Homo sapiens: one gene and its partners. The protein of the gene in region 3 purifies or fractionates together with the protein of the main gene of each other region. This does not show direct contact. Each region holds a gene or a part of one and is shown on either strand. Other genes may lie near its edges.

What was found.
Region 1: the proteins of CEACAM21 (region 3) and FUT8 purify together in Homo sapiens (affinity purification with mass spectrometry; 3 studies listed by BioGRID and IntAct, with this or other methods). This does not show direct contact.
Region 2: the proteins of CEACAM21 (region 3) and CDON purify together in Homo sapiens (affinity purification with mass spectrometry; 3 studies listed by BioGRID and IntAct, with this or other methods). This does not show direct contact.
Region 4: the proteins of CEACAM21 (region 3) and ITIH2 purify together in Homo sapiens (affinity purification with mass spectrometry; 3 studies listed by BioGRID and IntAct, with this or other methods). This does not show direct contact.

The regions. Positions count from the first base shown.
Region 1 is NC_000014.9:65,611,270-65,618,901, reverse strand, and holds part of FUT8 (alpha-(1,6)-fucosyltransferase), read right to left. Parts: intron 2,925-7,632; coding exon 2,809-2,924; intron 2,692-2,808; coding exon 2,529-2,691; intron 1,813-2,528; coding exon of another isoform or gene 1,711-1,812; intron 1-1,710. UniProt on the Homo sapiens protein: Catalyzes the addition of fucose in alpha 1-6 linkage to the first GlcNAc residue, next to the peptide chains in N-glycans.
Region 2 is NC_000011.10:126,059,463-126,067,514, forward strand, and holds the start of CDON (cell adhesion molecule-related/down-regulated by oncogenes isoform 2 precursor), read right to left. Parts: upstream 3,405-8,052; 5' UTR 3,117-3,404; intron 2,980-3,116; exon of another isoform or gene 2,826-2,979; intron 1-2,825. UniProt on the Homo sapiens protein: Component of a cell-surface receptor complex that mediates cell-cell interactions between muscle precursor cells. Promotes differentiation of myogenic cells.
Region 3 is NC_000019.10:41,570,922-41,579,373, reverse strand, and holds the start of CEACAM21 (cell adhesion molecule CEACAM21 isoform 1 precursor), read right to left. Parts: upstream 3,209-8,452; 5' UTR 3,100-3,208; coding exon 3,036-3,099; intron 2,175-3,035; coding exon 1,815-2,174; intron 416-1,814; exon of another isoform or gene 302-415; intron 105-301; coding exon of another isoform or gene 22-104; coding exon 1-21.
Region 4 is NC_000010.11:7,699,171-7,706,315, forward strand, and holds the start of ITIH2 (inter-alpha-trypsin inhibitor heavy chain H2 precursor), read left to right. Parts: upstream 1-4,145; 5' UTR 4,146-4,264; coding exon 4,265-4,348; intron 4,349-5,937; coding exon 5,938-6,012; intron 6,013-7,145. UniProt on the Homo sapiens protein: May act as a carrier of hyaluronan in serum or as a binding protein between hyaluronan and other matrix protein, including those on cell surfaces in tissues to regulate the localization, synthesis and degradation of hyaluronan which are essential to cells undergoing biological processes.

The DNA of each region.
Region 1 (7,632 bases), on a different chromosome or scaffold from region 3:
TAGAAGGCTGCAAAACCCTAATAGAGCCCAAGACTCAGGAGGGCTCTTTTAAGAAGGCAGGCCCATACCCAGGTGGCAGCCTCACTGACCATGGTCCCAGCTACAGACCTAGAAACCTATACACTATCATTTGAGCCAATGTAAAAATAAAATGGACTTTTGTATCATATAAAAATTACCAGAGGCAAACCTAAAAGTTTGTTTTGATTTTAATTCTTATACTTAAGGATCTTGAAAATGGTCAGTAAAAGGGTATATTCTACATAATAAAAGTCCTTTCTATTTGTACGTCCGTCAGTTTAAGGGTTATTTCTCTAATGTTTGATTGTGTTTTGCTCATTATTTGTATTACTGCATTCTAATCTGGCTTCCTGGAGTTAAATTACTACCCTATGAAGTTATGTCCCAGATTCATTGTCATTTCTGTTTAAGACAGGAAAATAAACTGACTTGGGTACCTTTACTTACCATTTTTGTTTTCAATGAACTACCATTATTTAACATACTAAATGGCACTGTAAGGAATCATAATTCAACAACAACAACAACAAAATGGAAAACTGATTTATATCAGTTTCTCAGGGGCCCATTTCTTATATTCACTTTTCATTTGTACATATGGTCACAAAACATATGCGAGTTATATAAACAAATTATATTATTATTTACAAAATAATTCCTTAAAGAATTATTTCAATTCAGCTGGACATGGTAGCCCAGGCCTATAATCCCAGCTACACAGGAGGCTGACGAGGGAGGATCACTGGAGACCAGGAGTTCAAGACTGGCCTGGGTAACATAGAAAGACCTCCACATCTAAAAAATAAATAAATAAATATATACATACATATATATATATATATATATATATATATATATATATATATATATGAATTAATTTTTAAAAACACTGGAAAATTAAATTCTCAAGTTATTTGATTACTCAAATCTTTTTTTTGAGACAGAGTCTTGCTCTGTTGCCCAGGCTGGAGTACAGTGGCATGATCTCTGCTCACCACAACCTCTGCCTCCCAGGTTCAAGTGATCCTTGGGCCTCAGCCTCCCAAGTAGCTGGGATCACAGGCATGTGCCACCATGCATGGCTGATTTTTGTATTTTTGGTAGAGACGGGGTTTCACCATGTTGGCCAGGCTGGTCTCAAACTCCTAGCTTCAAGAGATCTCTTATCTCAGCCTCCCAAAGTGCTGGGATTACAGGCATGAGCCACCACGCCCAGCCCAATTACTCAAATCTTAAAATTAAACATTCCATCAGAAGTCAGTGGCCAAAATTCTCCTTTACATACAGCATAGTCTACCCAAGTCAAATCCTCTTCAGATGTGAATTGGCCTAAAAAACTGTGATAAGCAAAGAACACAAGCACAAAATTCCATTTAAGAGATGCTTCGTGCCTAGAATCAGCTTTAGGGTAGAGAAATATTAATGACAGAATTAGTCAGCATTTGGTTTAGTGGTCTAAGTATGGCCTGACTGCAAGTTGGGCTAAATATATCAAAAAGTCTGTCCAATGTGTGGCCTAATAATTCACTGCCCCTTGAAATCCATGCTATCATATTTCTGTAGATTCATTAATGCTAAAATGATTCCAATAGACAGATTTTTATTTATAATTTCACCTAAAACAACCAAGCAATTTTTCAAAATCATTATAATATTGCTGCTGATGTTAATAAATATGAAATCTCTTACTTGTATGGGGTAATTCTTTTCCTCTTCACAGTAGTAGGTTGTGCTAATACAACAATTTTTCTTTTATTGTTCACTAATGAGACAGTAATTGCCATCAGAATCCTACTGGAAACATAGACTTTTAAATATAACAGGCCTAAAGACAGGTTTCACTGTATTTATAATGATTTTCAGATACATTTTGTTCTGCATGAATACAACAGCACCAAAATGTTTTCTTTTCTGTGGAAGATAAACTTCATATTATTTAGCAACGTGTGCATAGGAGAAACAAATTTAACCAGGCAGATCTCAGGTACCTCTTTCCAGCAACTAATGAAAGAACAATGAACAGAATGCTCCTTTTTACTTAAAGAAAAAAAAAATCCTGTTAACCTTTCATTAGAAATCCTTAAAAAAATGCTATTTTAAAGTTTTTAATGTTTGAATTAGAAATGTAACCATCGGACTCACTATGAGTTCCAATGTACCGCAATGCAAAACTGCACACTCCACTTCAAATACTGATTATATATAAAGAACATTTATAGAAAGATATTTTAATGTATTGTTGGCTGGCACCACTACCTTCAGAATTTATTTAGAATGTAAAGATTTCTAGAAATACATTTTAATTAATACTTTCTGGTGGTATATTTTGGTTGATGAACTGCACTTGGCAATTACCATCCTTTGGGACCTCAGGTACTCTTCGCCTCTTAAATATTGTAGGTGCTATTAATATTTACCACTCAACAGATGGATTAACAAGTCTGTTTCTCATTCTTAGATTATAATCTTTTCTAAAGCCCAAATAAAATGTGAAAGGAGAATAGTACCTTTCATGATGTCCTAAATCCAAAAGAAATTCATCTGCATGTCTTTGGAGTTCATTTCCTTCTAAGTTCTTTAATTTCTTCAATTCACTCTGTAGGAAAAACCAGAGCTCTTTAGCTCCATTTTCAATCCTCCTCCTCAGGATTTCATGATCCTTCCCCAGACCTGTAGTCAAAGAATAGAGAGTTGTAGCATTTCCAACATTTTGATAAAAGGAAACTTTCAATTATCTGTGCTAAAGCCCATATACTGAGGAGGGGAAAACACTGTATAATCACCTACCATTTCTGGTCTGTTTCTTGTAATTTTCAATCTGTTCTTTGGCCTTAACAAGCTGCTCTTCTAAAACGCGTACTCTTCCTATAGCTGGCCCCTGATCAATAGGGCCTTCTGGTATCCTGTAGTTTAGGGAAGATAATGTAAACATTTAGCTTTCAAACTGTGCAACAAAATACAAGCTCACTTTCTAAAACATTTATACTGTAAACTCCATAAGTTGTTGAACCATATAGCACAAAAGTAGTACCAAATGGAATTTTCTCTTCAAAGGTATAGGATTAACCAGTGAAATGGACAATGAAATGATAATAACGAAAAATAGAAAATATTAATCTACTTCAGAAATCTATGATCTTCTAGGAGTTAACAAACCTCTAGAGCTGTTTCCTAAAAATCTTTCATCCCCAGAGTACCATGATCAGTGGCAAAGAGGTCAATTATTCATTAGCATTGAGAGTAACAAAAGTGAAGGAAAAAGTAAAGAAAAGGCTTAAAGGGAATAACGAAGCATATCTGAACATGTGTCTAAGGACATGCTCAAACATCAAATATAATGTATTTCTAAATTAATTATAATATCAGACTATGTAAATCTGTCTTTCAATTCATGACATTAGACTACTAAGCATTGGTCTTATATAGAAAAAAGAAAGACAAGAGTAGAAGATAAAACATATTAGAAAAAAATTGGGCCAGGTGTAGCCACTCATGCCTATAATCCCAGCACTTTGGGAGGCCCAGGTAGGAGGATTACTTGAGCCCAGGAGTTCATGGCCAGCCTGGGCAACACAGCAATCCCCCATCATTACAAAAATGAAAACATTAGCTGGGCACATGGTGGTGTGTGCCTGCAGTCCCAGCTACTCAGGAAGCTAAGGAAGGAGGATGGCTTGAACCATCCTTGAACCATAGTTCAAGATTACAATGAACTATGATCATGTCACTGCATTCTAGTGTAGGCAGCAGAGTGAAACCCTGTCTCGAAAAAATAAAAATAAAAAATTGAAGATCATTGTTCTATTCATTTCTATCAGCAACAAAAACAATCAGTCAATAATATAAAAGCTGGAACACAGAACAGCAATCCAAGATCTCTTACTTATATTATCAACCTCTCTGTTCAACTTAATTCCAAACTGTGCTTGTTCCTGTTTTGTTTTTATGTGACTTATGGCAGTATACTGTACTCCACTTTGATGTACATAATACAATTTCGTGGTAGGCTAAACAAAGGTCTCCCAAAGATATCCATAACCTAATCATGAAATCTGTGAATATTACTCTTTATGGCAAAAGAAACTCTGAATATATAATTAAGGATTTTGAGATTGGATTATCTAGGTGAGCCATTTTGTAATAACAAGTGTCTTCATAAGAGGAAGGTAGAAGAAGATTTTACTACAGAAGAGGAAAAGGTTATGTGGCTGTTAGCTTTGAAGATGGAAGAAGCAACCATGAGCAAGGAAGACATTTTTAGAAACTGGAAAAGGCAAACGAACGAACAAACAAAAATACCCCAGATGCTCTCCTAGAGCTTCTCTAGGGAATCCAGCCCTCCTGACATCTTGGTTTCAGTGCAGTGAAACTCAATTCAGATCTCTGGCCTCCAAAACTCTTAAGAGAATAAATTTATGTTGTTTTAAGCCATAAAGTTTGTGGTATTTGTCAAAGCAGCAATAGGAAATTAATACGTACATATATTGATCCTTTTACAAAATTGTCCTAAAGATTAAATAGCTGATTTTTCTTTCAAAGTCTATTTAAATGAGGAAATGTCTGTAAAAGTACTTAGCAGTGTCTGGCAATAAATTTTATGAAGGCTACTATTATATCTGAGCTTTGTCATTTTAGAGATGAGCTGTAATCTCAAAAAGTCTGGGCTATCTATTCTTACCATCATGACCAGTTTAAGGGAACTTAAGTTTTAAATTATAGTTGGCAGAACTTAAATTCAGATGTCAACACAGTCTTTTTTTTTTTTTTTTGACACAGTCTCGATTTGTCACCCAGGCTGGAGTACAGTGATGGGATCTTGGCTTGCCACAACCACTGCCTCCCAGATTCAAATGATTCTCGTGCCTCGGCCTCCTGAGCAGATGGGATTACGGGAATGCACCACCATCCCTGGCTAATTTTTTTACATTTTTAGTAGAGACGGGGTTTCATTGGGTTGGCCAGGCTGGTCTAAAACTCCTGGCCTCAAGTGATCCGCCCACCTCAACCTCCCAAAGTGCTGAATTACAGGTATGAGCCACGGCGCCCAGCCAACATAGCCTTTTGAGGCAAACACTCTGATACGAAAGGTTTTTTATAGCTTCTCTAACATTTTCTATATAACCTGATAAAGCCAAATTAACTGTCAATTACCTACACTACTTCAGAACACGTTTAATAAAGTAGCTATTGTTACAGCTATACCAAAGTAATTGGAGACATTTTATAATTTCCTGTAAAATTGTACGCATTAACATTGAACAGGAGCATAAAAAGTAACTATCCTCCAATCATGAGTGTCCAAGGCTACAGAATATGAATGAAAAAGCCTTCATTTGTATAAGCACAAAGCGAATAATAAAAAATGAATACAGTAGTTAGGTGCACAATTACCCAATTTATGAGCACGCATACATTCACAAATGAGGCATGTCCTGGTATATAGTTTTTTAAAGTTATGTTTCTAAGACTTGGCTCTTAATCTCTTTGTGAATTAGGTGGCTGGTTTCTAGGAAACAATTTGAAAATAGAATAAAACTTCAATCTCTTGGGATTTATTTTGGCAGCAATATACTATAGGACAGGAATGTCCTTTTTCAGAACATATGTTAGTGATAGAAAAATTGACAATAGAAAGATTATGTCTAGGTTCTCCTTTTTATCTCTTTCTTCAAATATTGGTGGAATAAACATCAGAGGCAAAACAGCCATGAAAAAAATAGCATGTGATCTTTTCAGTAGCTTTCCACAAAGAGTTCCAATCTAATTCTAATAAAACATAATGGAATTAGTAATCCATATTGCCTAATAATCTAATCCAACTGTGAAAAAAAAAACTGGAAAAGAAAATTACTGGAAAAATCACTCTAAAAAAAAAATACAGGAGAACTATTCTTTCCAAACTCCATCCAGAAAAGAGTCAATATGCACGAACAGTCTCTTTTCTGAATACTTAGGGAACAGAATGCTTTCTTACATTCACCATGCCAAAGATACAGATATATAAGACTTCCACTTCTAGCCAAGACATTTACCATCCTGCCTGAAACAACTCAAAATCCAGGTTAGATGTATTAAACAATGATCTAATAAAATTGCAATCAGGCAACAAAGGGCAGTGATCACCAGAGAAGGAAAACAAATGATGATAGCCCTGTGACTGTCCCAGCTTACTGCATTCAGAGAGTTTCCAGACCACAGTGTATGGAGGGGAAATGCAGATGGAGCCAGTACATTCACTGAGTTGAAGAAATGGAGCTAAGAGTCTAAAAAGACCAAGACAGAGTTTGAATAAGAGAGAACTGTAGAGGACAGAGAATTCCAGAAATCTGCAAAGGTACCATTTTGGAATTAGCAGAGTACTCATCAGCACACACACATAAGGAACTACTCAGGCTGGGGAAAGAACTCTCTAAAAGGATTAGAGGAAGTAGTACCTGGCATTCATACAGATTAGGTAGAAACAGTTCCTGATCCTATCAGCCAGACTAGAAAACCGTAATTCATGGGATGCTGGGTAAAATGCTCAGAAGGATTTGGCCTCAATAGCAGGAAAATGTGCCCCAGACCAAACATTGCTTAGGTCCCACTTAACAATTATTAAAAGACAAAATAGGATCAAATTATTTTAAAATAACATAACTACATCCCAGAACAAAATTTAAGAATATTTGTAAATTATACAAGACCTTCTAGTAACAAACAAGGTAAAATTCATGTCTGGAATCCACAAAAGTTACCAGGCTTGCAAAAAAACAAGAAAAGACAACCCATAAAGAAGAGTGAAATCAATCTATCAAAACCAACTCAAAACTGACACAGATGTTAGAATCACCATAGAAATAACAGTTATTATGACTGTATTTCATATGTTCAAAAGTTAGAGACAGGGAAGATATAAAAAAGATGTTAAAATTTTAATAGGCCAGGTGCGGTGGCTCACGCCTGTAATCCCAGCACTTTGGGAGGCTGAGGCAGGCAGATCACCTGAGGTCAGGAGTTCAAGACCAGCCTGGCCAACATGGTGAAATACTGTCTCTATGAAAAATACAAAAATTAGCCAGGCATGGTGGCAGACGTCTGTAATCCCAGCTACTCAGGAGGCTGAGGCAGGAGAACTGCTTGAACCCAAGAGGCAGAGGTTGCAGTGAGTCGAGATCACGCCTTTGAACTCCAGCCGGGGTGGCAGAGTGAGACTCCATCTCAGAAAAAAGAAAGAAAGAAAGAAAAAATTTTAATAGATACCCAAGTTGAACTACTACAGATGAAAACTATAATGTCTGAAATGAAAAATATAAAGAATGAGATTTACTGCAGATTATATATTGTAGCGTCTACCCTAAGAAACTAAGAAAAAAAGAGCAAATGAAACTCCAATTAAGTGGAAGAAACGAAGTAATAAAGATCAGAGAGACGATCAATGAAATGGAGAAAAAGAAAAATAGATAAAAACCAATGAAAACTAAAATCTGGTTCTTTAAAAAAAAAAGAAAGAAAATCAATTAAACTGGCAGACTTTTTCCTAATAAATATTTTCGGTTTTATAGGCCAACAAGCAAAATCAAGGCTATTACTTGGGGGGTGTGTGTGTGTGTGTGTGTGTGTGTGTGTGTG
Region 2 (8,052 bases), on a different chromosome or scaffold from region 3:
TTCCCTCCACCCCCTCAACCCCCCCTGCCCGCATCCCCCCAATCCCCGCTCTGCTCCACTCCCTCTGCACACACACACATACACACATACAAAAAAGGCACTGCAGGGCAGAAATTCCTCAGGTGCTCGCTAATGGAATTCCCAGGGTCTTGGAGCCGCTTCGGGGATCAAGAGATCTCATAGCCCCCGCTGGGGTAAGGAGCAGCGAGTCTGTTCCATTTAATCAAATACAGAATGAATTTTCAGCTCTATTCACTAGCTTGTCTCCAGGGCTCTCAAAAGGCACCAGGCAGCTAGAATCACACACATGTGGCTCTTTTAGGCAAGTATAATTAGCTTGATTTTAAAAAGCCACATTAATAATATCACCTCAGGACCATTATTCAGGAGACAGATGACAATGATACTGTATGTTTTAAGCCTGACAATGGGGGAAAGAGCACAAGCAATGAGGGAAAACTTGAAGGATTAAAAAAAAAAAAACCAAGAAACCAGTTTTTCATTTAATTGTAATCCAATATTTTTCAAGTGACATTAAGAATATTCCATACACCATCCCTTCTTTTTAACAAAAAAGAATCAAGTAAAGCCCTCCCCTGTGCTGTTGAAAGTGAGTTAGTGCCAAATACACAACAAAAACTTATCACATGGAATGATTACATACAATATAAAAATTTAAGTAAAAATAAAACATTCTCAAATTCAAGTTCACGAAATTTCTTGAAAAAATTCCCCATTAAAAAATACTGTAAAAAAGCAAGTCCTTCAACTCAAAATATTTGGCAACCATACTCCAAATTCTGTTTCTAATCTAATTAGTTTGTATTAAGTTCATTTACTTAAAGGGGGGCTACCATGTACGCAGCTCATCTACAGCTCCACTGTATTGTCTTACCCATACTTCTACATCATGCCATAGCTGATCACAAGGCGCTGGCTCATATCATTACACGTTAAAGCAACACATTTTTCAACTCATTATTTATTTTCTAACGCTTCCCTGATTTTTACTACGATAATATTTAATTCCTGAAATCATTTCCCTAGTATTTAACTTCGAAACAATCACCAATTTTTAGTCTAAACGTTCGTGGAAAAAAAAAAATTCTACAGAAGGAAAATTTTACTTCAACTTACATTTCGACAAAACCATACATGAAATTGTCTACAAAGTCATGAAGGCAGATGGGCGAAGTGGGAAAATAAGAAGCAAGCCCAAGAAATAGTCAACAAATTTTTACCTGCTCTCTTTAGAACAAAGCCCTAGGACATTAGTTCCTATTCCTACCTACTGCCTTCAGCTGTATATACCCTGACGATCTGGAGGAGAAAGTCCTATCTTAAAGTGAACTTAATTCTTTTCCTGCAAAGTCAAACCACCTGCAAAGAAAGCAAGGCGTAAGCTAGATTTAGAAGCCAAGCTACACAAGCTAGATCAGTATCCAAGTCCTAAGGGTTCTTTGTACTTGAAGGCTTGAGAGTCAGAGCTGTTTAAGTACTTTGCACAGAAGAGGAGGCTGATGAGAACCATGGCAATCAATCAAAGCATCCCAAGTGAGTTATTACACAAACAACAGCACAGTACCTCTAGTAACTGATTCTCCTGGCTGACTAAACTATTCAAACAAAGACAGATTTCCCAAACACTGGGAAGTTTTTGCATGAAAGTTAAACAGTATACATTTGTGTGTTTCTTAATAGAAATATAAATGTTTCTGTTCTACACACTGCCAAACACACACCCAGGGCACGTCTTTACAAAATGAAACAGGTTTTCTCCATCCTTCTCATATAACTTCAAGTATGAGGCAGTTCATTCCAACATGTGCATAACAGAGACTGCAGTATTTGGTGCTTCTCGGGTTCCAAAGAATGCTTTCTAGTTAAGCACTAATTTAAAATTTCCAGAAAATTTTTTGAAGGTTTTCTTTCATCTTATCTTAAAAGTTGAACTATCCCCAAATTTTCAGCTAAAAATAGACTGAGGGTGGGGGAGAACTACAAAATGTCATAGAATGTTTAGAATTATGCTGACAATAAACTCATTTCATTTTCTAACACCCTCCCCACCTTCCTCTCCTTGGAGACACTGTCCACTAGGTATGCCAAGTGTCAGTTGGGAATTTGAGGGTTATGTTATCAGCGCCGAAAGGAATCAGAATTCACTGACTTGGCGTCTTTCATCTTTACTGGCATAGGCCTGAAAATAAATCTCATGTGAGCTTTTAGTCCAACCTCCTGTTTTTCAAGGTGTCTGGTTTGGGACACAAAGGCTGACTTTCTGTTGATGAGGTTCTCTAAATTCTGGATTCCCACTGGAAAGCAGTCTGCCCTTAAAGCACCTGCCACCCTCTGTCGTCCTGATGAGGAAGGGCAGGCATTCTGGAAACAGCTCCTTTTGGAGAGCCTTCCACCTGATTTGGTGGGGTTAGGGAGAACAATGAAGGGAAGGGCAAGAGAGTCTATCTATCCCCCTCAGTGATTTATTGCTGAAATTCCTAGATGTGGAGAGAAAGCAACAAAGGTCTGGAAGCTGCCGACTGAAATAAATAGCGAGCTGTAATGTATTTAGCAAATGATAATGCAATCCACAGAAAGCTTTACAGAGGAGAAGGAAAAATACACTCCCTGGGGCTGGGAAGTCAGTGAGTCTTGTGAAGGCAGAGAAAGATACATTGTGCAGGAAATTTCTCTTGCTTCTCCCTACACATAAATCACTGTCTCTCGCGGGCGCTCTGCAGGGATGGAGATTGAGAGAGGCCAGGGACCCGGCTCCCTTGGGAAAACGCGCGGGCGCCCTAGCTCCCCGCTCTGCGGCATCTCACCTGCCCCCGAGGACCATCGTCAAGAAGAGGTTTCGTCGTGTCACTGACACCTCACCCCGCCTCCTCCCGCGAGGTGCCTCCGAGCCCCCGAGGACGCGGAACGCCGGGGCTCCCCGCCGGGCAAGCATCAGCATCCAGACCCCGCACGCAGCCCTGCACCCCCACGCCCTCCAGGGAACGCCGGCCCGCCCGTCCCCGGGACCTCCCGTCCCCTAAGCCAAGGCCCCCCAAGCCCAGTGCCCGCGCGCCACCCCTCCCTCCGACCCTGCGGCGGGACCCCCACCCCCGCACCTCTCCGCGGGGCTGGCTAAGCCTCCAGACCTCCTGCGCTGCAGCCGGCTCGGAAAGCCACCCCCAGGTCATCCCCCCGCGCGCGCGCGGCGGCGGCTACGGTGGCGGCGGCTGCGATCCGAACGGGCCCCTCCATGCACCGCGCAGGGCAGAGGAGGGAGCGGCGCCTCGCACGCCGGGGCTGGGGCGCTGGGCAGGGCGGGCGGGCGTGGGGTCCCGGGTCTCCTCGCACCTAGCCGCGCGAGCCGGGCTCCCGGGCTCAGGGGAGGGGAGCTGAGGGGCGGAGTCACCGGGGCGCGCCCCCGCGGCTGCGCTCCTCCCCGCCGGGGAGCGCGGGCACGTAACTCGGAGGGTGCTGGGCCGGCCCGGAGCACGCGAGCAGCGGGAGGAGGGACCGGGGAATGACTGACGGAGGCGGGCCGTAGAGGCCGCTGTGCCCCGCCGGCCCGCACCCGGCCGGAGTGTGCGCGCGCAGCCTGCCAGATCAGCGGCGGGGGCACGGGCCGTACCAAGTGACGGAGGGGGGCACGCTCTGGGCAGGACCCTCTCCTCGTCATTGACCTGCCTACTCTGCAAGAGAGATACCCCAGGGGAGCATAGAAGAGGCTTTTCTTGGGTGTAGGACAGGTAAGGGTGAGTTGCCTTACCAAGTCACGGAGATTCCCATCATGCCTGCACTCACGCTCCCCTCACCTTTCATTCCCTTGGAGAGACGGCTCTTCTGGCAGGTCTCCAAATGGTCGACTCTGTCCCCCGAGGCCCCGCCCTAGCCTCGTTCGGGCCCCGCCCTAGCCTCGTTCGGGCCCCGCCCTAGCCTCGTTCAGGCCCCGCCCCTCGCCCCGCCCCGCCCCTCGCCTCTACCTAAGTTCTCTGAGCCGCCAACGGGTGCATCCCTTCTCCCGGTTCTTGCCTGGTCTCTCTTAGGGTTCCAGCGGCCCACCGCTTATACCTCCTTCGCCTTTCCACCACTTTCCATGTTTAATTCCTTAGGCAGCTTCATCTGATTCCCCCACCACCACCCACCCGCCCTGCCTGCACATAAACGCAAGCAGGTAGCAAAACTCAGGGGCTAGGAGAGGCGTGGTGTGAGCCTTTGGCCCCAGAGTCTTTCCAACTCGTCCGTTGGACCTGCCCCAAGTTATCTGAACTCAATGAACTTCAGTTGTTCAAACAGAAAAAGGAAAAATAAATTTCTATTCAAAATGTTGCTGTGAAGCGTAAATACGATACTTTGTGAAAAGCACCTGCCACTCAGTGGGCATTCAAGGACTGTAACTTCTTTATAAATTGTTATTATTAGCAGTTAGCTCTTTTTTTTCCCCATCATCATTACTTACTATTAGCTTAACTACAAAAGGATCCCTAATAATAGTTAAGTTTATAAATACTCAGTACTGAACTTCAGGAGAAATATGCCAGTCCTCCCTTACCTTCTTACGTGAATTTTAAAAAGAAATGCTTTGAAAGTGTGGTATTGTTCAAGCAGGTTAGCTTTCTGCATTAGCTAGATTCAGGGTTTTTGTAAAGCCCCTGGAAAGAAAGTCAGTACAGGACGGAAAAAAAAAACACAATTTTTTTTCTTAAGACGGAGTCTCACTCTGTCGCCCAGGCTGGGGTGCTCTTGTTGCCCAGGCTGGAGTGCAATGGTGCGATCTTGGCTCACTGCAACCTCCGCCTCCCGAGTGCAAGCGATTCTCCTGCCTCAGCCTCCCAAGTAGCTGGGATTACAGCACGTGCCACCACACCCGGCTAATTTTTGTATTTTCAGTAGAAACGGGGTTTTGCCATGTTGGCCAGGTTGGTCTTGAACTCCTGACCTCAGATGATTCTCCCGCCTTGGCCTCCCAAAGTGCTGGGATTACAGGCGTGAGCCACCACACCCAGCCAGAAAAAAACTCTTAACTCTAGTTTGTCCTCCACTGTTCTATTGTTCACTTTTGGAGACCAAGAATCTATATGTTATTAACAAGCTATGGTAAACGATTTTTCATTCGGCAAGTAAGTCTTTCTATAGAGGATTTAACTGAAATGAGAGTTTTGTGTGGATGTTAATAGAAGTCTTGCAAATTTATTGTGGCTACAGAGAATTCCAGGTTCTTCTCCTGGGACATAATGCACTTTGTGCACCTCCAGATCTCACAGTGCCATTTGAATTCACTATGCCTACTGTTACTCATAGTCAGACTAAGAAAAAAATCACAATGTTTGTTGATATTAATTACTTCCTCTCCCCCTTTTTTTGTAAAGCAGAGAAATCATTTCAGGTGTAAAACAGTTTTTCATTAATGAATCATTCATCCATTTGTTCAACATTAAGAAACAATGTGCAGTCCCAAGCTTCAAAGAGCTCACAGTCTAACTGTGATACAGACACACACGTGGGTAAGTACAAGGAGACATCTTCAGTGCAATGAACAGGGAGCTGTGTGAACACAAGGTCAGTATAGTATTGAGTATAGTATTAAGAGGTGATAGTATTAAGAGGTGATAGTATTAAGAGGTGATAGTATTAAGAGGTGATAGTATTAAGAGGTGATAGTATTAAGAGGTGATAGTATTAAGAGGTGATAGTATTAAGAGGTGATAGTATTAAGAGGTGATAGTATTAAGAGGTGATAGTATTAAGAGGTGATAGTATTAAGAGGTGATAGTATTAAGAGGTGATAGTATTAAGAGGTGGAGACTTTAGAAGCTGACTAAGTCATGAGGACCACCCTCATGAGCAAGATTCATGACCTTATAAAAGGGCTTCAAGGAGCTAGCTAGCCCCTTCTGTCCCTTCTGCCGTGGGAGGACACAGAGAGGTCATCATCTGTAAGGAGTAGGCACTTACCAGACCCTGAATCTGCAGGCACCTTGATCTTGGATTTCCCAACCTCCATAACTATGAGAAATAAATTTCTGTTGCTTAAAGAGTACCCAATCTAAGGCATTTTGTTATAGCAGCAGAAACAGACTAAGACACTATGGGGCCTCCAACCACAGATGTCCACTATGTAGAGAACTCCAAGTGGAAATACGGATTTAAACGTCATCAGCATAAAGTAGTGTTTATACCATTAAAGTGGAAGCGATCTCTCAGGAATAATATGGAACCAGAAAGTTGTAGCCAAGGATGGATCTCTAAAACTCCAATAACTAAAGCCCCCAATTATCTTGATGAATTTGGAGCAAAGGCTGTTTACTGAACTCAAGGTATGGGACTTGAAAAGGATGCTTGAAGAAGGTGGTGAAGGTTTGGAATAGTCATTAGGAAAAATGAGAGTTGAAAAATGAAAGTAGAAAATCACTCAGAGAATTGATAAGTGATGCTGAGGGCCTGGCTGAGGTTGGAGACCATTAATGTATGGTGATGGAGCTTGCATGATTATGTGGTTTTCTCCATCAAAATTTAATCAGTCAGGTAGAAGGGGAAAAGCATAACACCAACCCAATTTTGAAGTTTTTCTGGAAGTTGTACAAGAAGGAAAATAACACACGGTATTGGTAAGAAAATTTTTAAAACAGCAATCATAGAATCCAGGCAGTGGAAAAGGTGTAAGAGGTTTGAGAAGAATAATAGACTGGAAAAATTACAAATTAAAGAAAAGGAGATATGTATGACATTAAAGAGCTGTTGTTACAGGATTGAGTAAGAAAGAACCAAGAAGTCTTTGGTAATAACCAGAGTTTACCATTTCAGAAGTAGAACAGTTCCAAGTAATGATTAGATCTAGTATGTTTACCGGTGCTGGTGGACGATGTGGATGATTTATGCCGTCAGGGGACATATTGAAGGAACTGAGAGGCTGATAAATGAAATACCATGAGCCAAGTACTCAAGTCCTCAGGGATGAGGTGGGAAGGTTGTTAGATACTAAGTGACATTTAATACATTCCAGGCCTGAAGTGGGTGCTTTTATAATACTCAATACATGTTAAAATTGGTTCTCCAAGGCCGGGCGCGGTGGCTCACACCTGTAATCCCAGCACTTTGAGAGGCCGAGGCGGGCAGATCATGAGGTCAGGAGATCAAGACCATCCTGGCTGACATGGTGAAACCCCGTCTGTACTAAAAATACAAACAATCAGCCAGGCGTGATGGTGGGTGCCTACAGTCCCAGCTACTCGGGAGGCTGAGGCAGGAGAATGGCATGAACCCAGGAGGCGGAGCTTGCAGTGAGCCGAGATCCCATCACTGCACTCCAGCCTGGGCGACAGAGCAAGACGCCATCTCAAAAACAAAAACAAAAATGGTTCTCCAAGAATAACATAATAGAGTAACTAGAGTCCATAAACTTGTATCACATTCTGACTGTACCTTATTTGATCTTGGTCAAATAACTTAAACTCTTGGAGTCTTGATTTCATCATTTGTAAAGTTGTAAATGACTTCATCATTTGTAAAGAGTAATAATACCTCATATAGAGTTGTTAATAGGACCTACTTCAGTGGTTTGCTAGGAGGATTAATTGAGATGATACACACAAAGCACTTAATACAGTGATTGGCAAGTAGCAAACACTGGATAAAAGTGTTTTTAACATAAATAAAAGCTATTTATAATAATAATAGTTAATGCTTATATAGTTCCTTCTGTGCACCAAGTATTATTTTAAGCATTAGTCCCAAATTACAAATGAGAAAACTGAGACATGAAGTGCCTTGACCATAGTCACACGGCTAGTCAGTGTCAGAGCTCATATTAAAACTCAGGTAATCTGTGTCTAGAGGCTGGACTCTTAATTATTACACATTAATGTCTCCCTACAATAATGGGAAGTATTTTTATTAATATCACTTCAAATAAATTGATCAGTTAAACTGATCTGTTCTTTTTTAGCACCATTTGCTCGCAGTGCCGCCTCCTGCTCCTCCTGCCGCCACTGCCGCCCTGAGTCACTGCCTGCGCAGCTCAGGCCTCCTGGCTTCCCATACTAGCTGCCGATATTTGGA
Region 3 (8,452 bases):
TGGAGGGCTGAGCCACTGACTCTGTGGATAGAGTGACCAACAGAAAGTGTCTTGGGGCCATGCTGCATCCTCAGAGATCTCAGAGTCAAATTTAGAACATTCTCCTGTGAATAAAGGAGAAAGATGAAGGACAGGGAGGAGCAGAGAGAACCAGAGACACCCATAGCAGCGAGCAGTAGGGACTACAGTGACCTCAGAGACCCCAGGGACCAGGAGGACCCAGCTGCCTCAGACCAGGACCAGGGAGCCCTGAAAACCCTCCCACAGATGAGCGGCCCCAGAGTCACATGAGATGCAATACCTGGGGTGGCTTTAGGAGCAGGCAGTCAGAGAAATGGAACATGGGTCTCAGCCCCTAAGGGACAAGGAAGAGGTGTGGCCAGCTCCTCCTAGGATCCTACATCCAGGACCCAGTCTGTAAAGAGGTTATGATTATTCCTTTCTTTTTTCATTAATTCCCTCCCTCCTTCATCAGAGAACTACTGAGTGTGTGTCTCAGTTGGGCCTTGTGCAGGTACAGGGTGTAGTGGGAAGAGAAAGCTGAGTCCTTTCCTTCATCCTCCCATGGGAGTGACATCAACAAATCAAGAAATTCATGATTTCACGTCCAGTGAGGGAAGGAATGTGGATCTGATGGGAGAGGCTTGGACAATCCTGGCATTGAGTCTGATAGTTGAGACAGGTGATTTCGTTCTAAGTAAAAACTGACTAATTCTCCATTTGCCCGTCATTCCTCAGACCAGAATCTCCCTCTCTGAGCTGAGGATGCCCAAGAAGAAAGGAGCTGAACCAACATCTGGTCCTGGGGTCCACAGATGCCCCACGGTGGTGGCCACGACCAGATTCTGGGCTGCAGACACACGGTGGTGTGACGTTGAGCACTGACAGCCTGTGTGATGCTGATGCAATTTCTCTTTAATAAAATGGGGTACATGTCAATGGTCCCTGGCTTGCCATCCTCTCTGTAAATTAACATTAAAATATTTACAATTACCTGACCTAAAGCTTGGCACAGAATAGCTCCAAATAAACATCATCTATTATTATTTTACTCCAAAAAAAAAAAAAAAGAGTTCTCTGGGCCTGATTCCTGGTGGAGAAGGAGCGGTCCAGAGTGTCTTTTCTCTGCTTTCCCTCCTCCTGAGGACAGTGCACTTCCCGGGACATCTTTTAAGTTTCCCATCCAGTTTAATGGCCTGGGAAGTTTGTTTGTCTGTCCTCTCCACTCTGACTCTCAGGTGAAAGATGAGGCTCTGCCCTTGCCCAGATGGGGCTCTGGGGGCTGAGCCCTGCCTGGTGACCAGCTCTAGGAACCACGGCCCTGGGACAGCTGGTAAATCCTTGCTCACAATCAGCCCTGCCCAGGAAGCCACAACCCAGCCCTGGCACAGGCTCCCCAGGGTCATCTGGAGTCAGGATCTTGGGACAGGGGCCTGGGGCAGGGGCTTCAAGGGCTGAGCTTCTCTCAGAGGATCCTCAGGCCAGGCCCTGACTGAGTCCTATAAGATCTTTCTCAGGTCATGTCTATGAGGAGGAGGCCAAGGGGGGTTGGACTGAGACTGATTTTCCCCCGCTGCATCTCCCGCATCAGACTATCCTTCTTGCTGTAGGGAATTTCCACGGAGTCCGGATAAGGGAAAGGAATTCTGATCTGTTATAGTTTGTCTCCCCTGGGTGTGTCCTGCACTAAATGCCCAAACCCCAACATGGGACGTAATGCAGAGGGGGATGCAGGCACAGCCCAGGCCTGACAATCCTGCGTATGTGAAGCAGAACTGACCCCCAACACCCAGAGGCACGGAGGAATCACTCACCGTATACACGGAGATGGTGAGATGCCTGTTCAATCTGAGAATTTCTGTATGTGACTTGTAGGTTGTAGTATCCCGTGTCCTCTAGGGTGACGTTCTGGAAATGCAGATCTCCACTGGGTGATATTGTCTCTCGACCGCTGTATGCAGGCCCTGGAGTCCTAACGTGAGTGTCTATTACATATGCTGCGATTAGCTGGTTGGGCTCCACCGTTTTCCCTTTGTACCAGCCATAGCTGTAAAGATTCTCGGGCAGATAAACCACAGAGAGATGAACATTCTCCCCTTCAGCAACTTCAAAGGGCGCTGATGCAATAAAGAGCCAGGCAGTGGTGGGTGCGTTCCAGAAAGTTAAAAGTGAGGCTAGGAAAGGGAGAGAATATCAGTCAATATTTGACCTATGCATTGGCATGGAAAGACGGGGTCCTGGGTGCAGGTCTCTTCACCCCTCAGCCTTAGAGGGTGTGTGTGTGTGTGTGTGTCCTACTGGGTCAAAGTCAGCAGCATGACCCTCATTCCTTCAGTACCTCTGACCTTGGCATTTCCTTGTGTGAACCCTCTTTCCCAGGGGTCTGCATGGTTCCCTCCCCACTGCCTTCAGTTCCTACTCACACAAGGGAATCCCTGGGAGACTTCTTTCGTGAAGCCTCCTCTAGAGACCCTGGGTCTTCCCTTTCTGACCTTTCCCAGCTCTGTTCCCTCCAGGGCTCTTGTCAGCACCTGACCTCACATTCTAGATCTCTTTGGGTGTCTGTCTTCCCCCCCATGAGATTGTGAGCTCTGTGAGGGCATGGACTTGAGTGATGTTAGTTGCACCCCAGTGCCTGGGACAGGCTGCAGACTCCTGTGGATGAGTTCATGAGCGTTCCCAGGGCCTTCCATATCCTGGGGTTTATTTGCTAATGTCTGAGGTTGGCAGATGAAGACAGAGTTTCATGCCCTGGTGGTGTTTTTATTTAAATTGTCACTGTGATATAGTTTTACTATCATTTTCAAAGTGTAGTGGCCACTGACAATGAACTTGAAAACATGGACCAACTGAGATTGTTTTGCCCCTTGGCAATTCCAGTTCACTTAGATTTTTTGGTTCTCCTTAGACGCTCTCTCCCCTGAGTCTCTAACAAAAGCCCTCTGTCTCCTCTCAGAGCCCCATCCTCCCCAGGAGACCCCAGCCAGTCTCTGTGCTCCCTCCTCCCACCCACTCCCAGGGAGTCCTCCCCTCACCTGTGAGCAAGAGCCCCTGCCAGGGGATGCATTCTCTGTGGGGACAAGCTGAGGGGGGCCCCATGGTCTCTGCTGCCTGCTCTGTCCTCCTCTGTGGAGAGGAGCTTGGGCTCCAGGAACGCTCTAGACAGGGTTACTGTGACTGTTGTCTCTGCTGTCCTTCCTTCCTCTATGCTGAGCTTCCTCTCAGGCAGGAGCACTTCCCGTTTATGGGCAAGGGCGGGGCTCTGCCTACAATGTCTCTCTGTCCCCTCCCCTCTCAGTCCTGCCTCCCTTGTCCCTCCTTTCTCCTTCCTTTTTGCCTATATTTGGTTCCCTAGGCAAAACTTTGAGAAGCAACGCTGATGGGGTCCTCATAACAGGACGACCCACTCTCCCCAGTACTGACCTCTGCTGTGTTCTGGCCTTGGTTCTGTCACAGCCGGTAGATTATTTCCCTTTGTGACACACAAAACCAGCTGGGCCCTGGGTCTCCTCATGCTCTCCAGTGCTCCAGGAAGGCAGAATGATGCCCAGCAGGAAAGTGACAGAGGTGGCTCTGGGGGCTAGAAAGGGGCTCACTGGGTGATGGCTGGGAAGGACCCACCCGCTATCTTCAGTGTCACCAGCCTGGCCTCTGACCCAGGGACAGAGACCCAGGCCTGGAGGTCTCGGGAGGATCCCCAGCTCCTAGGTGTGGAGGGAGGTGTCCTGTGTGTCCTGGGAAGAGAGGACTTTGATGGAAGGAGGTGGGAGGCTCTGGGTTCTGCTGTCCTTGGTGAAGGTTTCAGGGGGACCCTCTCCGTGTCTGGGGTCTGTGCCCCCAGCTTAACTCTCATTCTCTTTGCAAATACATATATTTTGTGGATCTGCAGTTGCCTGAACTGTCTCATGTCCCTAAATCTTTGTATCCCTTTTTACAGAAGGTCAGGAAGGGTGTGTACATGAGTATGAGGACTATCTGATCAGGGCGAGTGTTTGTTTCCCAAAGATCTCTTTAGATATGGTATAATACATAAGATAAATGTACTGAATTAGCAATTTTAAGTGTAGAATTAAATGATACTAATTCTATTCACAATGTTGTACAACCATCACCATAATTTTTTACCAGAAAATCTTCATTATACCAAATGGAAACTTCATACTTTTAATCAATAACTCCCCACTTCCCCCTGCCCCACCCACTGGTAGCCTCTGATACTATCAATCTCTGTGAATTTGCCTAGTTTACATGTCTCATATAATAAGGAATTATATACGTGTATTATTTTTTTCTGGATTATTTCTCTTAGGGTAACACTTTTAAGATTCATCCACGTCGTAGCATATATTACAGCTTCTTTCCTATTTATGGCTGAGTAATATCCCAATATATGTTTATACCTCAATTTTAATTCATTCATCTCTTAATGGACATGTGGGTGGTTTCCACATTTTTGCTATTGTGAAAACCGCTGCAATGAACTTACACTTGGAAGTATCTGTTTGGGTTTCTGTGTTCATTTCTTTGGGGGTACATATAGGAGTATAAATATGGGGTCATGTGGTAGTTCTATGTTTAAGTTTTTGAGAAACAGCCAAACTGTTTTCCAGTTTGCTGTGCTATTTTATATTCCCATCAGCAATATACGAGGGTTCCATTTTCTCTACATTCTTGTAAACACTTACTATTTAATATTTTTTAAAACTTATAGCCATTCTAGTAGGTGTGAAGTGATAGCTCATTGCAGTTTTGATTTTCATTTCCCTGGTGGCTGATGAAGTTGAGCATTTTTTCATGTATTTGCTGACAATTTTAATATTTTTTAGAGAACTATTTATTCAAATCATTTGCTGTTTAAAAAAAATGGGTTATCTTTTTATTATTCAGTTGTAATAGTTCTTTATATATTTTAGATACAAGTCCCTTATGGGGTACATGATTTGCAAAATTTTTCTCATATTCTGTGTCTTCTCACTTTCTTCATGGTGTTCTTTGAAGCACAAACATTTTTAACTTTGATGAAGTTCACTTATCTATTTTTAATTTTGTTACTTATGCTCTTGATGTCATATTGAAGAAACCATTGCCCAATCCAAGATCATTAAGTTTTACTCCTATATGTTCTTCTAATGGTTTGATAAGTTTTGCTATTCCATTTAGGTTTTTGAAACATTTTGAGTTAACTTTTGTATGGGCTGTGAGGTAGGGGTCTAACTACACTATCTCGCATGTGGTTATCCAGTTGTTCCAGCACAATATGAAGAGGCTACCATTCTTTCCCCATTGAGGAATCTTGGCACCCATGTCAAAAACCAATGGGCTGTAATGGTGAGGGTTTATTTCTGGACTCTTGATTCTATTCCATTGATCTCTATGTGCATTCTTGTGCCAGAAGCACACTGTTTTAATGATTGTAGTGTTTTAGTAAGTTTTCAAATTAGGAAGTGAGTCCTCCAATTTTTTTTTCCAGATTGTTTTGGCCATTCTGGGGTGACTTTTAAAAAAGATGTAGTTCAATGGTTCTCAAAGCAGGAGTGGTTCAGCTCTCCTTTTTTGGCAGTCTGGAGACCTTTTTAGGACCTTAATCTAAGTAGATAAATTATTCCCACTTTCTTTTCTGAGTTGCTATGTTACAGTGTATATTGACACCCATGAAATAATTGAGAGACCCTGGAAGTGCTTGCCTACATAGTGAGGGACAATTAGTTCCATGATCATGGGCACAGAAGATTTTGTTTTGGGAAACAATTTTGTTGGTGGAGTTATATTCATGCTTACTCTTTTATTTGTCTTCATAGCCTGCATCTCCTTCAGACTTCATATCTGTTTATTTTCTTGTTTGTCCTCTGGGGTTTGGGTGTTGGGTGACCAGTCAGCTGGAGCTGGAGGAGGTGCTTAGCAAGGCAGTGACCCTGGTTGGGAGGAGCAGGGCTCAGCAGGGTGAAAGTAGCTGGGCCTTGAGTCAGGAGTGGCATCTGGAAGGCCTGACTGTAAGGGTCAGAAGGGCCAGCAGGTGGGTGTCCTAGGCACAAACGGTGGCTGCTGCTGTGGACTGGAGGAAGGTAAGAGGCCCCGAGTATTCCATGTTCTTACTGGCTCCCCAACTGAGGATTCCTCTCCTGGGCTGGTGCTGTCCTGCAGCAGGGAGGGGTTAGACAGGGACGGCTGCACATCAGGCCGGAGTCCATGTCATCCTCTTAGGCACTGTCACTACAGATTGAGGATTCTGTTCATAAGCCAAGCCTTTGCACAAGGAAGGGACCCGGGCTCTCAAGGAAGAGCAGCTCCTGGTCAGACCTCCATCTCCTTCTCTCTCATTGCCTGAGGCCTCAAGCTTGGTCTACCTGGCACAGGGGTCTGGATCCTCCTCCCAGGGTTGGGGTCTTACTGAGCTGGGCACCTGCAGGTGGGAGAAGATCTGGAGGGGCCCCATCTGCCTTCACCAGATTGATGTTGAGGGTCCCTGAGTCCTGCACCACTATCAGGTGCTGAGCAACTTCCAGTGTCAGTGACAACCACCCCATGGTGGAAGCAGAACCACCTCGTGAGAAAGCACCTCCAAGCCTCAGTGCTTGCCATGTGTGGGAATTTGCTGGTTTCAGTTGGGGGCATGTTGGTGGGTGGTCATGAATTCAGGGCCGGATTCTATGCTCACAGTGCACATGCTGGATGTGGTACAGACCCCAGGCAGGGCTCAGTGGGGTGGTTTTGGGTGTGCACAGGTATCTTTTCTGGAGGAGCTGGTGGTGATTTGGCTCCCAGAAGTTCCTGAGCTCTGCAGACTCACCAAGCACTCAATATTTGAGTGAACATTGGGCGAGAGAGCAGAAGGTAAGTGTCAGGGCATCGGGGTTGGTGCCTCTGGGAAGAGGAGGAACATTCTGGGAACAAAGCTCTCCCCCGGCTTACAGGGAGCTTCCCATCGCTCCTGCCTTGAGGATCAGGGAAACTAGGGCCTCTGCTCTTCCAGGGGCTGCTTGCAGGCAGTTTGCTCTGGGAGGGGGTGACCCAGGAGTTGCCTCTCATTTTGCATTTGAGATTTAAAAGGAGAAGGGACAGTATATCTTGCCAGGTCACAAAAATTACAGGCATCATATTGACTGAAGGGCACTCCTGTCATCATTGCAATATACCAGAATGGTCTTTTAAAAAAATAAGTGATTTAGGTTTACCAGCAACTGTAATGCTTGTTTTATTCTTCTAGTTCACCGTTAATGTCACTTTTGTAGTTTTAGCACTGGCAATGTTGATTTTATGTTGACTCTGATGATTTTAAGCTTTCATTTGTTCACATAGAGATCATCTTCTTTCTGAATATTAATGCATTTTTTCTCTATTTCTACTGGTTATTCCTGTACATAGAGTAGAGAATCACTTTTCCCAAGGAGGTGGAAAGCTTCTGACTACCAAAAAAAAAAAAAAGTGTCAAAATGCTTTAAAGTCAGTAACTTAAAGATCAAATCCAAGAGTGGGCAACAGATTCTGCCCAGGGTCTGAAAGGTGGAGAGGTGACTGGTGAGGATGTTTAAAAGACCTCTCCTCTCTACTCCCTAAATGGGGGCCATCCAGTGTTCTTGAGGTTCAGAGAAGGCCCAGGGCTGGGGCAGCAGGGCACTGTCAGCTCCCAGCTCCCAGGGGCCAGGAGTAAGACCCCAACACTGTCCAGACACTGATTGCATTCATTTTGGGGGAGAGTAGATTCTTATTTAAAGAATAATACAAAAGTCTACAAATTTGAACATAAACAGAAATTCCTTTGCTACAATTTTCCCCTTAATAAGACATTCCTTCCTAATGACATATGTGACTGCATTCATGGCTGAGATGTTTTCTAGGATGGTGAGAGCATCAGAGTGGACTATCTGGTGCCTTGGGGTCATGCATTTTCTTCTTTCAATGTCTACAGGATCCCCCATGTCCCACTTTGTAGTGTAACTCAGTGTGTGTCATTCTGGTTTTTGTTGTATAGATCCTTGGAAAGCCCATGTCATTCCTGCTGTGAGGTACAGGCAGCCAAATGGCATCATCTCTAAACATGCCTTCTCCTGGTACATCAAATTATGGAATAAATGAAAGCCATTTTGACAGATATTGAAGATATAAGTTTCTACTCTTCCCACACATGCGATTCTTCTCCCAAGTGAAGGATTTTACTGGTGAATTGTTATTAGAGATTAGTGTGGATCAGTGACTCTGCCAGGGGAAATTTTGCCCTCTAGGGGACATTTGGCAAAGTCTGGAAACATTGTTGGTTGTCAGAGCTGGGGGAGGGAGTCCTGCTGGCATTGAGTGGGTGGATGGTGCTGAACACCCTGCAGTTCACAGAGCCCCACCAGTTTGACCACCCAAATGTCAATGCTGAGGAGTGGAGAGCCCTGCTGTGCCCTCCCGCAGCTTCCCTGAAGCTTCCCCTCACCTGCTCCTCCCATGTCTCCCCACCACTTCCCCACTT
Region 4 (7,145 bases), on a different chromosome or scaffold from region 3:
TATTTGAGCTGTGATACCTTCCTTCTGATTGTAAAGATATTTTCTTATAGCTTCTTCAAGGATTGTCTATTTGAATTTCCAAAGATGACATTCAATTACTCTGCTACATCTTTTCCCCTCTCTTGGCCACATGACTTAACCACTCTGAGCCTCACTTTCATCATCTTTTAAATTAGAGGATCCAGCTAGATAACCTCTAACATCCCTGGTGGCTCAGATATCCAAACACACTCTTCGCCCTGTTTACACCTTGGAGGGAGCCACAATTACTCATATGAAGGTGCTTCCCAGCCTGTACCTGAAATACCAGCACCAGATCTTAGTGTGATCGTGAGACCACTTCCAGATGAGACCCCTTCCTCGCCAGAAAACACCCAGACACCCTGGGAGGAACAGCAAAAGCTGCTACACTGGAATTGACCTATCGTGGCTGGTCACATGTCTACTCTACTCTCGATTTCTCTACTCTGGCAATGGATTTGAATTTGAACTTCAGAGGTAAGGAACACAGAATAGGAAAGAACTGAAATGGCTCAACAGCAAAGCCACGTTTCCATGGCTTAAGAACCAATGAGAGAATCCGTTCCATGCTCTCTAACTTCCCATTTTTGGCTTGTGATACTGCTATTCAGTTTCAAATATTTTTCTTTTGAAACATCTTTATGTTCTGGCCTCAAATGATACAAACCCACACCTGGCCAGGCACAGTGGCTCACATGTAATCCCAACACTTTGGGAGGCCAACATGGGTGGATTACTTGAGTCCAGGAGTTCAAGACCAGCCTGGGCAACATGGTGAAACCTCACATCTACAAAATATACGCTCACACAAAAATCAGCTGGGTGTGGTGGTGTGCACCTGTAGTTTCAGCTACTCAGGAGGCTGAGATGGGAGGATTGCTTGAGCCCAGGAGGTTGAGGCTGCAGTAAGCCATGATTGCATCACTGCACTCCAGCCTGGGTGATAGAGTGAGACCCTGTCTCCATTAAAAAACTAAAACAGGCTGGGCGCGGTGGCTCAAGCCTGTAATCCCAGCACTTTGGGAGGCTGAGGCGGGTGGACCACGAGGTCAGGAGATCGAAACCATCCTGGCTAACATGGTGAAACCCCGTCTCTACTAAAAATACAAAAAATTATTCAGGCGTGGTGGCAGGCACCTGTAGTCCCAGCTGCTCGGGAAGCTGAGGCAGGAGAATGGCGTGAACCCGGGAGGCGGAGCTTGCAGTGAGCCAAGATTGTGCCACTGCACTCCAGCCTGGGCAAGAGAGAGACTCCATCTAAAAAAAAAAAAAAAAACAGAACCAAAAAAAACACACCTCTGCATTACAGAGGACAAAAAAATGTAGCAGAGTAATCAAATATCATCTTTGGAAATTCAAACAGACAATCCTTGAAGAAGATGTAACAAAATGTCTTCACAATCAGAGGAAGCCATCACAGCTCAACTATGTGTAGAAAACAGACCTGCTCCATGTTATGTGCAACCTGACCCACCAAACAAGCAGGTCAGGGTCAAATATAGCTATTTTTCTGGTGAATTCATCCAGCTTTGACTTTGGACTTTTACAAACATGCTCTTTCACAATGACAGGGCTGGAGCTGAATGCTATAAATGTGAGGCAGCTATTGTTATACTGTCAGCTAAACCACAATGACTTACACTCAGTGATGAATCTCAAGTTTGTTGATATTTCCCAGAGTTCCCAATGAGTACTAAATGTTATCTCTTTGTTCAAACATTATGAAATATTGTGATTTTTTTTCTTGTAGATTTCCTACTGATTTTCACATACGTGAAAGTGAATATTCTTGTGGCATTTATGGTAGTGATTTCCATCCTAGAAATCAGTGGATATATTCAATTCACCACGTCACAGCTGCCCAGGCATGATGGGAGGGGTTGGCAGTGGGGTGGGGAGTGCAAGGGGAAAGGGTCTCAGGTTCAAGACTCAGTAGCCTGAATACACAGCCTACGCGGTCGTGCTTCTGAACATTGAGAGAGAGAGCAAATGTTGTTTTGTTTTGTTTTGTTTTCAAGAATTTGGGATCAGGCTGAGCACAGTGGCTCACGCCTATAATCCCAACACTTTGGGAGGCTGAGGCAGGTGGATTACTCGAGGTCAGGAGTTTGAGACCAGCCTGACCAATATGGTGAAACCCCATCTTTACTTTAAAAAAAATAATACAAAGTTAGTTGTGGTGGTGCACGCCCGTAATTCCAGCTACTTGGGAGGTTCAGGCAGGGGAATCGCGTGAACCTGGGAGGTGGAGGTTGCAGTAAGCCAAGATCATGCCATTGCGCTTGAGTCTGAGCCACAGAGTGACGCTCCCTCTCAAAAAAAAAAAAAAAAAAGGACTTTGGGATCTGAAGACAGAGTATCAGCATGGAAAAAAGTCCAGCCTGCTTTTGGTTTGGTTTATTCTGAGATAATTCTGAATATCAGATTAAAATAATCAGAAAGGAAATGATCAATGGAAGGAGGTATGATTTTGAAAGTCACTGCTGTTTTTGGGAGAACATGCCATTGGGTTTTTTATTATTTATTTATTTTTTTCTTTTGAGACCAAGTCTTGCCCTGTTGCCCAGGTGGAATGCAGTGGCGTGATCTCAGCTCACTCTAACCTCCGCCTCCCCAGTTCAAGCAATTCTCATGCCTCAGCCTCCCAAGTAGCTGGGATTACAGGCGCATGCCACCACACCTGGCTAATTTTTGTATTTTTAGTAGAGACGGGGTTGCACTATGTTGGCCAGGCTGGTCTCAAACTCCTGACCTCAGGTCATCCACCCGCCTCAGTCTCCCAAAGTGCTGGGATTACAAGTGTGAGCCACCGCGCCCAGCTGCCATTGGGTCTTAATTCTCCAGAAACAGTATCTCAGTCAAGAATGCAAAGCTGTGGCAGGATTTTTCCATGAGGGGTCCACTGAGGCACTCACTGGCCAAGGTGGGCGCTCAACTAGTCCAACCTAGGCAAGGGAGGGGAGAATCTGTTTTCTCCCTTCCATTATTTCAGAAGTTATGTTTCTCCAGCAGACACACGGCTGTGCAATTTCGAAGACTGAGGGGAAACTAGGGAGGAAAATGCAGAAAACTCTCTGTTGCATGCCCTGTGAATTGGGCTTTAAATGTAGCAAGGAGCTCCAGGATCCCAGAAGTTGGCCTGGGGTGCTTGGTCCTGAGGATAAGACAACCTCCCTTGTATTGTAATTCTGCCCACAGCTGGAGCTTCCTATTTCAGTGTTGCATCCAAGAAGTTACATTTCCTGTTTGTTGCAAGAAAAATAGAATCTGACCAGGATGGAGGCTAGGCATGGGGGCTCACATCTGGAATCCCAGCAGTTTCGGAGGCTGAGGCAAGCAGATAGCTTGAGCCCAGGTGTTCAAGACCAGGATGAGCAACATGATGAAATCCCATCTCTACAAAAAATAGCCAGGCAGTGTAGTGCACACCTGTAGTCCAGCTACTCTGGAGGCTGAGGTGGGCAGATTGCTTGAGCCGGGGGAAGTTGAGGCTGCAATGAGCTTTGATCTCACCACTGCACTCCAATTCTGAGACTGGGGAGTATTGATTTGCCACTGACCTGAGCCCGGCTGATAGGGGCAGCAGGACAGACACTGTTACCTTAATCAAAGACATTCACGAAGCATTCTCACTGAAGATCTGCCCTAGTATCCTGCACAGCCACTTGCCTGGGTCTTTATAGGTAACAGGTAGACAGTCATCAAAGAGATAGGGGAAAACATGCACAATGAATTCTTTGCTCAGAAAAACCCTTCTGTGTCTTCTCCCACTTTTTCTAAATTTTTCCTGCTTTCATTTAGATCAAAGGATTTTGTTTCTTGGAATAGTTCTGCACTTGGTCCTTTAGAAAGGATGACAATTATCTGTAGGTCTCTCTGATTTTAAGATCAATAGAAATCAGCAAAAGCCAAAAAATAAAAAATAAAAATAAAATAAAAGCACACAAGCACATTCAAGCACATCCATCTGCCCCTGACTTGTCCTCACAGTAAGCAACTGCTTCTGACTTTGCTGTTTGAATAACCTCTGGGTGTTCGATCCACCCACACAGCTCAAGTTTGAGCTCCAGAACAAATATTTGTCCCAATTTTGAACAAAGTTAGAGAGTTTTTTCTTCTTTTTTCTTCTTTCTTAAAGCGAACTGTACTCCTCTGCTGTTCCTTTGAACTTGGTTCAGTAGGAAGAAGTGATATCCTCCCCAGACCATCTGCTTTGGGGAGCTTGGCAAAACTGTCCAGCAAAATGAAAAGACTCACGTGCTTTTTCATCTGCTTCTTTCTTTCTGAAGTATCAGGCTTCGAAATCCCCATAAATGGACTTTCTGAAGTAAGTACTTACAGATCACTCCTTGCTGTTGGCTTGTTCATGAGCTCAGTAAATCATCTATTGGAATCGCTATTCAATGGCCTTATTCTGTGTGTAATGGAAACTTAAGATAAAATTCATCTGAGTGCAAGTGTTTACTGTTATAATTACTGGAATGTATATTTACCTTTTAAAGCATTAACAGGTTTTGCATGAAAATTAAGTCAAGATCAATGGGCAGGCATCAGAGCGTAGCATTTATGGAGCAGAGCTGCTCACTCCTCACCTAAAAAATTGGGGGTAAGAATAGACCTAACCCAATGGTTTGCTTTGAGAATTAAATGACACAGTGTAAACTCTTCTAGCAGAGCGCCTGGACTAGTAAGTGCTTAATAATTACTAGCTGTTATGATGATGAAGAAATATTATCACTCTTTTACTAAGAGTATAAGAAAAGTCATTATCAAAGCACACTGTTTTTCATATCTAAGTGAACAGTGATATTTGTAATAAGAGCACTTTAAGTATTCCTATTAAAGCGGAAGATAGCAGGCAGGGTGGAAAAGTACAAGAATAATTCCCATGGAGTACAGGTCTCCACTTTTGTCCCTTAGCCATCTCCAATGTAAGGAAAGTCTTGGACTGAAAGTCTGTTTCTGAAAGTCATACAAGAGCTATTTTTATGCCAGAAAAGCGAAGCATGTTATGGGAACATCCCAGCAAATGCAAAGGCTTATAATACTTGCAGAGTGGATTACCTATAAAAATGCCAGAGAATATGACGGCATATTTACAAAGGGAAAATATCACTCTGTCTGCTTTGAAACTATCATATTTTCCAACACTTAAAAGCCACCAGAGTGTGTTAGAAATCTCAAATTGAAGCCAAGACATCCAAATGTGTTTGTGCTTTTTCAGTCATTTCTAACTGGCATTTCCTTTTAGAAAATACCTACATTTTTAACTTGGGGAGATGTATGGTTCATGTCTGTCCAGTCAGACACTGCAAATGCCTCCAGGGTCTACCCAGATACTTCCCCAGACACCCACCTAATCACTGGGTTGTTTTGATCTCTGTCTTACCACCTGCTGGCAAACTCAAAAATGAATTCCCATGTCCAACAAATGCGAAGGTGTTGTTACCCTCCATTTGGACACCTCTGAGACGTAACCAGCAAATAGAAATATACTAAAGAAATCATTTTATACAAAATTGTGATTGCCCAGAGGTAGAGGAAAGAATATAAAATAATGAATACCAACAGCTATCTCTTTGGCTCTAGATCTTTTGGAAATCATCATTCTCAGCAAAGTAACACAAGAAGGGAAAACCCAACACCGCATGTTCTCACTCATAAGTGGGAGTCGAACAACGAGAACACATGGACACAGGAAGGGGAACATCACACACTGGGGCCTGTCAGGGGGTGGGGGGCTAGGGGAGGGATAGCATTAGGAGAAATACCTGACGTAAATGATGAGTTAATGGGTGTAGCAAACCAACATGGCACATGTATACCTATGTAACAAATCTGCACGTTGTGCACATGTACCCCAGAACTTACAGTATAATTAAAAAAAAAAAAGTTAAAATCCTAATTTTTTTTAAGTTTGTAGACTATGAAGATCTTGTGGAACTGGCCCCAGGCAAATTTCAATTGGTGGCAGAGAACCGGAGATATCAGGTATAGTAAGGTTTACTCCCAAAAGGGGGAAAAAAAGTGAAAGAGATTATGGCAGAAGAAGACAAGTGTTAAGATGCCTTCTGCTAGATTTTCTTAAGAGTTTGTTTTTTAGCACAGAAGAGTCCAGACTTCTTACACCTTGGTGGAAGAGATCACCCAGGTGAAATAAAAAGAGAAACTCACACAACTGCTCAGCAGCCTTCACACCATAATGCTCAATTTAGTCCCTTAAAGAGTACACGACTCAGCACAGTGGCTCCCACTTATAATCACAGCATTTTCAGAGGCCAAGGAGGGAGGATCACTTGAGGCCAGGAGTTCCAGATCAGCCTGGGTAACATAGTGAGGCTCTACCTCTGCCACCCAGCTAATATATATATTAGCTGGCATGCACCTGTAATCCCAGCTATTTGAGAAGCTGAGATGGAGGATCACTTGAACCCAAGAGTTCGAGGCTGCAGTGAGCTATGATTGCACCAGCCTGGGCAACAGAGGGAGACGCTGTCCCCACTCCATTTAAAAAAAAAAAAAAAAAAAAGAATACATGGCTATGTGTTTTCTTCAAAACTTAAGATTCCGAAATTATTTCCTGCCTTGCCGGAAGGATTTCCTGTTAGGAAGACTTTTCTTATTTTAGCGATGACAGACACTCCCCCTTGCAGCCTCACAATCTCCTTCCTCTGGTCACTCTGAGGGCACCTGAGAAGGAGAATTGGCCACATTGGAAGTTGCAATCCTGGCGGCCACCAGCAGCAGTATAGACAAAACCCTCTAATTAAGGGGGTGAGTTTTCCAGAACACCAGGAAGGGCTTGGCTTCTTCCCCACGGAGCCCACATGCTGAGAGAGGAGGTATTTACGGAAGCAGCAACCCTAAGCTGATCAATGTCTTATTTTGTATGGGTGTGAATTTTTTACTTTCTGAAAATCCAGGATTTTTTTTTGTAGACTAATAATATTAAAATCCAATAAGCAAGACTTCATGTCACAATTTATTTAGCCACAAGAGAGAAAAATTTGTCATTGAGCATTGCATTCAAGAAGTCTACAAGAAGAGGTCAACCATTGACCTCACCATGTCACACAGCACAGAACCTCAGTTCACCCCGAATCAGGCAAGCTGAGCTTATATCC